2 separate regions of the Homo sapiens genome follow, and region 2 is linked to region 1. A link means that fine-mapping ties the variant in region 1 to the expression of a gene that starts in the linked region. Tissue or cell type: whole blood. Region 1 holds a variant in brackets; the other region holds the start of a gene. All regions are shown on one strand. Distances are from middle to middle.

Evidence for each region. PIP is the estimated chance that this variant, and not a neighbour inherited with it, causes the effect.
Region 2: TOR1AIP2 starts here. The variant in region 1 is fine-mapped to the expression of TOR1AIP2 in whole blood (TOPMed, PIP above 0.99).

The regions. Positions count from the first base shown.
Region 1 is chr1:179,854,322-179,857,086 of GRCh38, forward strand. The region is part of intron 3 of TOR1AIP2 (torsin 1A interacting protein 2); the gene reads right to left. Among named protein-coding and RNA genes, the nearest start is that of LINC02818, 19 kb to the left of the region's middle. The variant T/A (reference allele first, on the strand shown) is at 1,137.
Region 2 is chr1:179,876,352-179,879,116 of GRCh38, forward strand. TOR1AIP2 (torsin 1A interacting protein 2) reads right to left here and starts at 1,452. Exons shown (of 7, transcript NM_001199260.2): 1 at 1,342-1,452; 2 at 888-1,022. RefSeq lists an enhancer at 1,427-1,786.

The DNA.
Region 1 (2,765 bases):
GAGATAAGTAAACAGAAAAAAAAATATCATGCATAGACAAATAAGACTCAAAACCATTGATGCCAATTTTCTCCAAATTAATCTACAAATTTAATGCAATTTGAAACAAAATCTCAAGTTTTTTGATTATTGTTGGTTTCTAGTGAAATGGAAAAGTGGGTCCTAAAATTCACAAAGAGCAGCAAAGGATCAAGAAGAGTCAGCATAATTCTAAAGAAGGGGGGCAATCTTTACCAGATATCAAAACTTCTTTAAACTTAAAAATAGGGTGGGCACGGTGGCTCATGCCTGTAATCCCTGCACTTTGGGAGGCTGAGGCGGGCAGATCACCCAAGGGTCAGGAGTTCGAGACCAGCCTGACCAACATGCTGAAACCCCATCTCTACTAAAAATACAAAAATTAGCCGGGCATGGTGGCGCATGCCTGTAATCCCAGCTACTCAGGAGGCTGAGGCAAGAGAATCGTTTGAACCCGGGAGGCAGAGGTTGCAGTGAGCCCAGATTGCACCACTGTATTCCAGCCTGGGTGACACAGCAAGACTCTGTCAAAAACAAACAAACAAACAAAAAACTTAAAGTAATAAAAGCAATGGAACACTAGCACACGAATAGACAAACAGTATACAGAATAGAGAGTCAAGAAATATATGCATACATACATAAGGAAATTGGCCAATTCACAAAAGGGAAATAATGAATTAGTGAATAAATAGCGTGGGGACAACTGACTATTCAAATAGGGGGAAAAATTAGATTTCTGTCTCCTATTCATATAAAAATCAACTCCAGATTAAAGACCTAAATGTAAACAGCAAAACTTTTAAACTTTGAGAATATCAAATATCTTTATAACTGCAAGGGTTTCTTAAATAAGATATACAATACACAAACCAGAAAGGAAAATTTGACAAATGTGACCCTATTAAAAAATTTTAATTTCTACACAAGGTATCAAAATTAAAAGGTAAGTCTCTGACTAGAAAAACATCTGCAACACATAAAACCAGTAAGGAATTAATATTGAGAACACATAAAGAATTCCACAAATCAGTAAAAGACAAATAATGCTATGAAAAGTGGGTAAAGGGATGAATAAGCAGTTCAACAAAGAGGAAATATGAAAACCTAATGAATAT[T/A]AAAAAACAGTCAAAGAAATACAAAAAATAAATTAATGGTGAGATAACATTTCACACCAGCAGACTGGTAAAAAGTCAGGCAATATCAAATGTTGATGAGGATTTAGAGATACAGAGAGCTCTTAAACCCCTAATGGCAATGAAGTAAACCTGTTACTACAACTTTAGAGAGAAATATGGCAAGGAAAATTAAGGCACACACTCTACAAATCAGCAACTCCATTTTTAGACGTATAATAGAGAATCTCATTAATACGCCCCAAAATGTCCATTGCTGTATTGTTTAAAATGAGGAAAAAATTAGAAAATCTAAATGTTCATTAATAAGAAAGTGGGTTTAAAAAATTGTCATATTCTTACAATGTAATATTATGCATAGCAATTAAAATAAATTAGGTTATCTTTAAAAGTTGTAAAATTATAGCAGTGAAGTACTGCTGACCAGGCACAGTGGCTCACACCTGTAATACCAGCACTTTCAGAGGCCAAGGCAGACAGATCGGTTGAGCTTAGGAGTTTAAGACCAGCCTGGACAACATGGTGAAACCTCATCTCTACAAAAAAAAAATACAAAAACTAGCCAGGCGTGGTGGTGCATACCTGTAGTCCCAGCTGCTGAGGTGGGAGGATCACTTGAGCCTGGGAGGCAGAGGTTGCAGTGAGGCAAGATCACACCACTTCACTCCAGCCTGGGCGACAGAGCAAAACTCCGTCTCAAAAAAGAAAAAAAAATGTTTAATATCTTTACTGAGGTGGTGGTTCCATTTGTTATCAAACTTAAAATCTGTACATTAATTGTATGTGACATAGATTATCCTCAATAAACCTTATTGCAAACAAACAGAACTGAAGGTTTTCAAAAATGTATTACTTGGTTACTAGGTTGCAGTCCAAAAGAATCTGCAAAGGTGCCATCACAGATATTTCTATTATCTTACAAATGCTTGACATACACCTTTCCTGTCACAAAGCACACACAGATCCTACACCCCACTTCATTCAGACCTTTTGTAACATATCATCACTGTTCATAGTTGAAATGGCATTTCCCTTACAGTACAAGAAGTGGGACAAACAAGGAAGTTCTTGACAAATCCTCAGAAAAGGTCACATGGCAGGGTATCTGAGAGATCTGGAGGCCACTGTTTCAGAGGCAGGTCAATCTTTTTTTCCCCCCCAAGATAGAATCTCACTCTTCGCATAGGCTGGAGTGAAGTGGTGTAATCTTGGCTCACCGCAACCTCCAACTTCCAGGTTCAAGCGATTCTCGTGCCTCAGCCTTCATAGCTGGGACTACAGCTGCGCACCACCGTGCCCAGCTAATTTTTGTATTTTTAGTACACACAGCATCTCACCATGTTGCCCAGGTTGGTCTCAAACTCCTGGCCTCAAGTGATCTGCCCGCCTCAGCCTCACAAAGTGGTGGGGATTACAGGCATGAGCCACTGCGCCCAGCCAAGCAGGTCAATCTTTTGAACAGTGTCTGATCCCTATCAGGGTATGTGTTCATTAGGAACCTCTGGACTGCATAATGGAAGTGAGGCAGAGCCTCATCCTGAAGGAAAATGCAGTAGCTGGAGACTTTCTACAGCTGTAGGGAAAACCACTCCATAAGCATGCCCCAAAATA
Region 2 (2,765 bases), 22 kb after region 1:
AGCTAGCATTACCTCTACATTAGGAAAGAAACTAGATAAAATAGTTCTTAAATGAGTCACGCAAGGTTGCGTAACAAACCAGCAGAAAAACAGGTAATCAAGTTGTGGACTGCACGTTCAGCATAATAAACATTACTGAAGACAGGCACTCAGTTTTCATAACAAATGTTAGTTTTTCAAACTATTCTAATCCACACAAAGTCTTCCAAAAACATCTGTAGTTACTCTACCATGAAGTTCCTTTTTTTATTAAATGTTTCCACTGGCCTTTTATATCCTCATCTTGTGCTCAAAAAAAAAAGCTCAAAAAACATGGATAACTGCCACAGCTTAAAACAAAGAAAGGATCTCTCATACAGATCCAAAATAAAATGTGTTAAAACCTAAAGACAGGTAAAACAAAGCCAGTATGTTTAATCTATGTAACTCATTTCTGGATCTGTGTAACAGTATAAAGTCTGATAATTAAGCATTACTCATAAAGTAGAGAGTACTATGAAATTTGTTAAAAGAAGGAAAAGGCACAAACTTTTTCATCAGGTATTAAATACAATTGGGAGAATGGTACATATATAATATGTAAGCAAAATGGTAGGAGGTCTTACTAAAACTTCAACTTTGCCCTTTTTAGCACCAATTTTTTTTTTTTTTAAGTATTATCTTTTCAGGATTAAGATTATGAATGTCGAGAACCTAGGCATGTTGGGAATGGAGTAATCGCCGCCTACACTAGTAGGCAAATTTCCCACTCACATTTCGAACCCTAAAATAATTCGGCTTCTCACCTTAAAGTCTAAACCCAAAAATTTACTCACATCTTAACCCATTTAATATTTATAAGATTCAGTTTCTTTTTATCCCAAAACAAAAATATACCCCCAACCTACCTCGTTTACTGTTTGAGTGAGGCCAGGCGTGGTGGCTCACGCCTGTAATCCCAGCACTTTGGGAGGCTGAGGTGGGAGAATCGCTTGAAGCCAGGAGTTCGAGACCAACCTGGGCAATACAGTGAGACCCTGTCGCTATAAAAATAAAAAATAAAGTAATTAGTAGGGCATGGTGGTGCGGGCCTGTAGTTCCAGCTACTTGGGAGGCTGAGGCGGGAGGATCCCTTGAGCCCAGAAGTATGAGGCTGTGGTGAGCTATGATCACGCCACTGTACTCTAGCCTCGGTGACAGGGCAAGTACCTGTCTCAAAAACAATAAAAATAAAAATACCATTTGTGCGGTACGAAGGTGGGGGTGGGGAGGGACCGTTTCTGAAAGTCCTTTTCAAAAATTCAAGATATCAGTTTCAATACTAAAACATGGAAAAGCTGCATAGTCATTTTGTTTACTTACAAATTCTGGCGAAGTTTTAAATCGTAAAACTGTTAGTATCAGGAGAGCCCTTCGAGTATTCTCTCCGCTCCACACCGCTCGGCTGCACCCAGCGGCCGCCGCGGCCCGAATGTCGTCCAGGGTCCCCGCCCATATGACAAACACTTTCCGCCGGAAGGCGCCCGTGGAATCCTGGGACTAGTAGTCTCCGTGCCCTGCCTTCTGCCTTCTCCATCCTTCACCCTCTACTGCCAGGTCGTCTGACCCAGCGACAGGCGCGGTAAATGCGCGACCAAACCGCAGAGGTCCCATGCAATCTCATGCTGACAGGATTACAGGCATCTCTGTAAGACGTCGACCACCCTGACCTGAAATTCATAGACTGAAGAAACTCATAGGACCAACACAGTGAGCAGCAGTACCAAATGATAATGGCAAGCACCATGTCCTGGAACACACCCTCTGTGCCATTAAGAGGAGCATGTAATCCAATGAGTTGCCTAATCTAAACCTCAGTTTGCTCGTGTGTCAAATGGGGACAACGTTACTTACCTCATAAGTTTGTTATTAGTAGATTAGATGACGTATGCAGCATTTCTGTTAAATGACAGTAGTGACAAAAAATAGCTGTTTTGATCTACTAATTTTATAAATGTGAAAATTAAGAGATGGCGAGCAATTTACCCAAGAACATACAATTTGTTGGGGGAAAAATGAAGTAAGTCTAAAATTCCTGTTCTTGACCTACAGCAATTCAGGACAAATCTAACCAAATTTCAAGAAGAAATCTATTCATGTAAAACTCCCTTCCCCTTTCCTCTTTTTTTTCCCATAACAGTCCTGACCAACACACTATTTTACTTATTTTGATTTTTGCCCGACTCCTCCCATAGAATATAATCTCCAAGAAGGCAGGAAACATTTTTTGTCTTTTAGTCTATTTTGTTCACTGCTGTATCCCCAGCACAGAGAACAGGGACTGCCTACTACACAGTAGCTCAAGTATTTATTGAATTAATAATTCCTCATTTAATGTGATTTTTGGTGCCTTCACTTCTCAATCACCCTCTCTTGGCAGAAGTGACAGGATTTGGTAACACTCTTGGATGGTGTTTAATAATTAACTGCAAGTCCTAATTCAACAAAAAGAATACTATATTCCATTCACTTTATTGTGTTTAATTAATTTCAGTATAACATTTCCAGGAATTTTCATTTGTATTGTCATTAAAATATTTTTCTATCATTTGTAAGACTGGGGAATAAATGGAGCCAGCTACTATGTCTTTAATTAACTTCCTCCTGTTTAATATTTTAATCATCTTTTCCTTATTAAAATTGTTTGCCTACTTCATTTGTACTACTAAGTCACAACGGATAGATTTATCTCTTTAAATAAATGAACTTCTGCTTACCCTAAAGCAAAAAGTTCCTGTACAAAAAAT